2 linked regions of the Homo sapiens genome follow. The protein of the gene in region 2 interacts with the protein of the main gene of each other region in a pairwise test. Each region holds a gene or a part of one and is shown on either strand. Other genes may lie near its edges. The genes, in order: CCT8 and CDHR3.

What was found.
Region 1: the proteins of CDHR3 (region 2) and CCT8 interact in binary tests that used the Homo sapiens proteins (3 or more experiments, as listed by UniProt).

What each region holds. Positions count from the first base shown.
Region 1 is NC_000021.9:29,067,030-29,070,855, forward strand, and holds part of CCT8 (T-complex protein 1 subunit theta), read right to left. Parts: intron 3,309-3,826; coding exon 3,218-3,308; intron 2,474-3,217; coding exon 2,394-2,473; intron 677-2,393; coding exon 527-676; intron 43-526; coding exon 1-42. UniProt on the Homo sapiens protein: Component of the chaperonin-containing T-complex (TRiC), a molecular chaperone complex that assists the folding of actin, tubulin and other proteins upon ATP hydrolysis.
Region 2 is NC_000007.14:106,015,030-106,018,855, reverse strand, and holds part of CDHR3 (cadherin-related family member 3 isoform 1 precursor), read right to left. Parts: intron 3,746-3,826; coding exon 3,643-3,745; intron 2,930-3,642; coding exon 2,831-2,929; intron 1,011-2,830; coding exon 784-1,010; intron 1-783. UniProt on the Homo sapiens protein: Cadherins are calcium-dependent cell adhesion proteins.

The sequences.
Region 1 (3,826 bases), on a different chromosome or scaffold from region 2:
CTCATGAGCTTTTCTGCAGGCTATTTCATAACCTTCTATGACCTAAAACATAAACAACATTTCCTATTCTGACATGACTTAAAGTAGCTTATTTTGGTAACCCAATGCATATGGATGTTTATTTTTGATACAAAATGACAAAGAATATACTTCGGAATAAAACATATAGTAGACTCTACTAGTTATGAATGGAGGCTTAGATGACAGCCCAAATTTGAATCTTAACTCTACCTAACTCACTAGCTATGAGATCTTGGGCAAGATTTTTCTAATTTTAGTCTCTTTTCTCATCTAAAATAAAGTGGGAAAAAAAATAGATAAAATGGGATTATAAGGCCTCACTAATAGGGTTTTTGTGAGACTAAAATGATACAGCATGTGAAGCATATGTACTATAATGGCTGGTACAGAGCAAACTGCTCAGTGCATGTTAGCTACTACTATAATAATGATTTTAGTTTATGTTTTAAGCAGGTGTATATGTAAGCAAAAATTTAGTAGGAGTAAATTATAAATGAACACTTGCCTCTGAAACTGACAGGCCAATCCTCAGAAGTTCTTCAGCTAATTCCAGGAGAGCTCCAGCAAATACCAGAACAAAGTTTGTGCCATCTCCAACTTCTTGCTCTTGCATATGAGAAGCCATTACAATCATTTTTGCAGCAGGATGCTGTACCTAGTAGAAAAGGTAATATCAAGTTAAACATCTGATCCTTAAAGCAACATAAAATTGTTCATTTCCATTTCTTAAATAGACTCAATTTTCTTGTAGATTAGGTAACTCCATCTGATCACACTGCTACACTGCTATACGCTACTTATAGTGTGGTCACAAGAAAAAATCCAAGTCCCTTTATGCCGATCAGCACAAATGTATCACTATAAATAAGAATTTCAAAGTGCATCCTCTTTTGGTGGCCTGCACATACAGTGCCACACATATGTTTCACCATATCATATTTCACTAAATTAAAAAACAAAGTAATTACAACCACCAAACCTAGATATTTTTTAAAAGCCTTCAGGAGAACTAAAATAGATACCACTTAACTTGGTCATGACTCTCAATATCTATTTTACTATATATTCTTGTTGTAAGGGTTATCATTTGTGATTTAAAGAAAAGGGGGAGTATAAAACTTTTCTTCAAATATAACATAATTTTATGTGGATTTTATTCTTAGGATTTAATTTTAGATACCTTTACAGAAACAAGCCAAGGAGTAAGAACTGAGAGCAACAAGAAAACTATAAAAAGTCAGCCCTGTGATTTTATTATTTTGACGGTATCACCACTGTACTTTAATAACTCCTGAGATCATCAGTGTGCAACATTAACATTCACAGTGACAAACCCTTGTACAAGTGTTTTGTGGAGTTAAAATTTAACTTTTAACTTAAGTTCTTTAAGAATTTATATATATAATATGTATTTTTTTTTCTTTTTTGAGATGGAGTCTTGCTCTGTCGCCCAGGCTGGAGTGCAGTGGCGCGATCTTGGCTCATTGCAACCTCCGCCTCCCAGGTTCAAGCAATTCTCCTGCCCTAGCCTACTGAGTAGCTGGAACTACAGGTGTGTGCCACCACGCCCGGCTGATTTTGTTTCTGTATTTTTAGTAGAGATGGGGTTTCACCATGTTGGCCAGGCTAGTCTCAAACTCCTGACCTTAGGTGATCCGCCTGCCTTGACCTCCCAAAGTGGTGGGATTACAGGCGTGAGCCACCGCGTCCAACCAAAAATATATTATTTAAGAGGTTAGAAAAATGTTGATTCTTCTATCGTTTCATTTAAAACAAAAGATTAAGTTCTAGTGCTTTCAAGGGCTAAGCTTCAGGAAAATTCCCTGAGGTTGAATATGTTATCCTTTAATTACAAGGCGGGAATGAGGAATGGCTCTCTCTGCCTGTTCAGGTGCCAGACCTTCCTTATAACCCTGCTGGCAGGCAGTATCTATTTTATAGATTCTAATAGTAAAACTAAAGCTGAACAAAGTAAAATGCCATCAACTGATTGTTTTTATTTTCACAAAACCAAATGGTTGGATCTTTTTAAAAACCACTGTTATATGTATACGTTTTTGCACTGTGGAATAATTCACTTCAGAGTCACCCTATAGAATGAAGACAATGGTAATCAATTTCATATCGTAATTAGCAATGTATCACAACCAATCCCTCCATAAATTAATAACTTGAGAGATTTTTAAGATTTCAGTGGCTAAAACATTCAATCTAAAGAGGACTCTTTATAATTAGAACAATCTGTACAATAAATTTTCAAGCTGGAAAAATAGTCCCTTATCCAATCTGAAATAAGAGATTTCTTCTAGTTAAAATCTACTTAATTTTGATGTCACCAAAATATTTCTTGACTTTTTAAAGAAACAACTTACTTCTAGTTCTCTTAAAATAGTTGCTGCATCGTTTGTCACAAACAACTTCTCCAAGTGGTTGATAACCATTTTGTTCATTCCTCAAAAGTAACAGTTAAAAAAAGAAAAAGAAAGCCATTATTAATCAAATCCTTCCCCAAATACCCAGGAAAATCTAGTTAAGAAATTATAAATTTGTATATTAAAAAAAGAGCTTTGCAAGAAAACACATACTATCTATTCTTCAAGTTTATCTTATAGCCCCATGGGCATTCTCTGACTGCAGACCCATATTCTTTCTTCCCTTTCTAATGTCCTACAATATTTACTACGTAAGATGCCAAATCTCACATTTTTGCCAATTTCTATCTTCTGTTTGCAACATGACTGTCATGCAGCAAGTGCTCAACAGAAATTAACATGTAAAAAGGCCAAAATAATCTACTTAGTATATTTAGTTGTATGTTTATTCCATGAAACTGTATCATTTAAATTTAATTGGTGGTAGAAGGCAAGAGGAAGGAGAGAATTTTCTTCCTTAAACTATGTCACTTTTATATTTAGTGTTTGTCAGAATGAACATTAGGTACTATCTTACTAGTCAAAGTGTTATAATTTTTCTATCCTCTCAACAGGATAAAAAGTAATATATTGACCCCCATTTTTCTAAAGAGATGTGAGTTGATTGAAAATTAGAAATAACTAAAAATTGGAAATGAACTATCATTGAGCTATCAAATTAACTTCCGAAGTCATACCATAACATCCTCAGAACAAGTCTGAAAGAAGACGTAGTACACAATATTCTACTACTGTATCTTTACAAATATTAATTTAGAAATTACCATTTGGTCCATATGCTGTACGAGTGGTTTGGGCAAGCTCCTTGCAAGCTTGTATGTTTCTATACACAGCCTCTTCTAATCCTGAAAAGTGCTGTTAAAAAAAACAAACAAAAAACCCCGCTAATTAGACAGGACAGTGAAACAAAAATTTCAAATACAAGATATCTTTGCTTATATCTTGCCTCTAATAAAGAGGGAGCATAGCTTAGGTATTTGGCACAAGAGGGCTGGTTGCAAATCTTAGCTTTCTGGCTCTTTTTAAATTTGGGCAATTTTCTTAACATTTCTTCATTATAAAATGAAGTAATTATAATAGTACCTAACTCATAGGATTGTTGAGACAATCAAACAAGATTTTTTAATGTAAAACACAGCATTTGATATTCATAAATGATGCATACATTTCCTCTCTAGTTGAATGAATAAAGTATAACATTTTGGGGGACCGCAGGTACCTACTTACACATCAAAAGACTTAAAATTTTTTTTATTAAAAGTAGTGAAAAGTACAGGGAACCATGCTAAGACTAATTAGAGAAAGGGTATGAGGTACTTCAAGTAGAATACCTTTCCAGAATTTATCAGTATTTTCTAACTAACTGTTGAAAT
Region 2 (3,826 bases):
AGCCTCAAAGGTTGGGAAGCAAGATAGCAGCACAGCATCGTTTTAAGATCTACCCCATCTGGTATGCATAGAGGCAGGGTAGGAACACGGCATAACTGCTCCTGGGGAGGAAATGCATAACTCCAAAACCACACTCAACTTCTAGGAAGTGTGCATTTCACCAACAGCCTTCAGTGAAGGCAAAGCAAGATTTACAGGGCCACAAGAGGAACCTTGTCCCACAAAGTGGCTTTGTGGGTCCACCAGACATTCTAATATCTGGCCAACAACTTTAGTGCTTTTGTCAGTCACCCGCAAACTTGGGCCTCAAAAAAATATGGGGCTGGGTGCAGTGGCTCACGCCTATAATCCTAGCACTTTGAGAGGCTGAGGCGAGTGGATTACTTGAGGTCAGGAGTTCGAGACCAGCCTGGCCAACATGGAGAAACCCGTCTCTACTAAAAATACAAAAATTAGCTGCGCACGGTGGTGCACACTTGCAATCCCAGCTACTTGAGAGGCTGAGGCACGAGAATCGCTTAAGCCCAGGAGGTGGAAGTTGCAGTGAGCCAAGGTTACACCACTGTACTCCATCCTGGGCAACAGAGCGAGACCCTGCCTCAAAAACGAAAAAAGAAAAATGTGGATCTTTATTTCCCAGGGCACCTTTACTTGTTTCTCACCACATCCGCAGGATGTACCCTGGGAAGTTTCCTCATTGCCACATCCACACTCTGGGGGTGCCAGAGAGACCCTAAGTCAACCAGTTGGGTTACCGGCACTATACCAAGCAGCACCACTCACAGTGACAGAGCTTGTGTCTTCGTTGTTGGTGGCCTGGATTCTGAGAATATAGATGGGGGTTGTTTCACAGTCCACTTTAGTTACCAGCTGGAGTTCTCCTGTCTTGGGATTAATCCAAAATACATTTGGATACTGGAGGCTGGCCCCTCCAGTGGAGATGGAGTACAGGAGGCTGCTCTGGGGGAGGTCTTTATCAGTGGCTCGCACCTGTCCCACTCGGGTTCTGGCTGGAGGAATAAAGTACCTGCAATAAGTCCTGCTTTTAAGGGGTAGAGAAGGATGATTCAGGAACAGATGTCCTAACTGCCATGGTAAGAAGGACTTCTGGAGGCCTCCTTGCTGTCCAAACTCTGTTTTATAGCTTCAATTCTACTAAATTGAAATAATGCTAACCAACACCCGCTAGGTAACTGACCCTATGATCCAAGCAGTCCTGTGAGGTGTAATAGACAATTTATATCTTTGTGTGTGTGTGTGTGTGTGTGTGTGTGTGTGTGTGTGTGTGTGTCTGTGTGTGACGGAGTCTCACTCTGTCGCCCAGGCTGGAGTGCAGTGGTGCGATCTCGGCTCATTGCAACCTCCACTTCCTGGGTTCAAGCAATTCTCCTGCCTCAGCCTCCCAAGTAGCTGGGATTACAGGTGCCCACGACCACACCTGGCTAATCTTTTTGTATTTTTAGAAGAGATGGGGTTTCACCATGTCGGCCAGGCTGGTTTCGATCTCCTGACCTCAAGTGATCCGCCCAGCTCGGCCTCCCAAAGTGCTAGGATTATAGTCGTCAGCCACCATGCCCAGCAATTTATGCCTTTATATAGGCTCCAGGGACACTAATCATTTTGCTATCAGAAACAATAGTACAAAGAACATACAACCTCACACATACATCTCTTTGCAGCAGTATTGTCTAAAAGTCCCGTGTTTTTCAATTTTCTATAATGAGCATGAATTGCTCTTTTAAAAATAAATAATTGTTAAAGAATTTAGTAATTGATGATTACAGATTATAGATTTTTAAATCCTCTTCCATTTTGCAATTTTTACAAATATTGTTGGTGGGTCTGCTAGCATTCTGGCTTGTTTTGTAGGAGTTCCTTCTCATAAATTACACTCCTCAAGGGCAGAACCTTCTCTTTTTCAATTCTGTATCCCAGCACTAAGTTTGTAACCCAAAGTAGGTGATCAAAAAGAACTGCAGTAAGATCTGTGAATTCCCAGAAAGCCTATTCCTTTCGAATTTGTTATTCACTGGATAAGGTATAAGAAATTAAAAGCATTTTCTTTGGACTTGCATTTTGCATTTTGCTTGAAAACTTAATGTCAGGAAATGGAGACCATCCTAAAGAGAATGGATCATTTTAGAGGGAGCGTTTTGGTTTTGGTTTCATTTGTTGTTGTTGTTTTTAATATGGAAAAAGTATCCATGATCTAAAGATGAACGGCTGTGGGGAGTCTATTACACTAGAGCATTTATAGTATTACCTTCAAACTGAGAGAGCGAGAGGGAGGCAGAAAGTGAAGCTGGAAGTGGGGAGTGAGTCTTTTCCTTAAAGGGGGAGGAGCCTGCAAAAAGCAGGGTGTTGTAAAGGGCAGAAAAGAAGGCCTTCAGGGAATCTTAGTAGGGGAGAGAGAAAATGCCTTTATTTTGTTTGTAAATGAAGGAAATATAGAAATGGGAAACCTTTTCTGTTTTTAAATTTTAATTCTCTGAGTGAGCTGGATAAAACTCACAGTGGAGACCAAGAGAAAACTTAAACCTGGAAAAGGGAGGATTAGCGGAATCAGGCAAACAGGCAAGGAAGCAATCAGAGGCTTCTGAGAAATGCAGTTTAACCAACAGTTTTCAAAAGTCCAAGTTTCACCTGAAGGGCTCCTCAGCAGCGAGGAAAATTTAAAAGAAATAAGAGGTGCAATAAATACTAATCAGCTGTGAATCACTGTGCAAAACAGCATGCGAGGCCTCCAGAAGGGAGTTTTCCACTCCACAGAACACACGTTTGGATGGAGTCCATTGACAGCACTCTGGTCTGTGTCTTATCTGTTACTTACCGGGCCTTCTTTCTGACACATCAAATACATAGGATGGCCTATCAAAAATGAGAGGAAACTCATTTTCTGGGCTTGTTAGGATATAAACGTAGACGTTATCTAAAAATGGAAATAGAAACACATTTAATCACAAATCCATACTCATCCATTTGTTTATTCAACATCTTTAAAGAATCTCCTGTGTACAGGCTTTGCGCATAGGGGATACCAGGTGGCTAAGACATGGGAGCTCCTGCCTTTTAGATGCCGAGGGTGTTCACCCTTTGATAAGCGCATGAGCACACAGAGCACTACAGAACCCAGAGTAGGAACAGCTTCCAGGAGAATGAACAAGCTGAGCCTTATAAGGATAGAATTAGACAAATGGGGCAGGGAGGAGATTGGGGGGTGTTGTAGGCATATGCAAAAATGCCAAGGTATAAAACCACATAATTCACTCTGGAAAACTTCAAGCTGTTTGCCCAGTTGGAAAAAAATGGGGGCTTGGAAGCAAGTGACAGGAGGTGAAGCTGGAGAATTAAGCAGCAACCGAATGGTGAAAAATCTTGTATGCCAAGTCAAAGAGTTGGAACTTGAACTTGACAGCTACAGGAGATGCTCGAAGGCTTTAACCAAGGAAGTCATATGATGGCATTTGCATTTCCCTTCAAAGACTCTTAAGTGTTGTAATTCAGCCGAGAAAGAGGGGGTCCCCGCATGAGGGCAGTACTAGTGAGAAGGGGGACCTAGCACAATACCTAGTATTGCCCAGCAGAGTTTGGTCATTGATACTCAAGAAAGACAATCATGAAATAAAACAAAATGATACTTGCTTTTATAGTAAGGGGGGGCCACATCCTGCACCTGGATTATCACCGTATATTTATTGCCGGCTGCTAGGTTACTTGGATTTTCGTAGTCTAGATCACCAATCAGCTAGATTAAAACAGAGATAGTAGATTATACAGATTAAACAATCCTATTTATTGGGCTGCGAGAGACATTTTCATATACTGC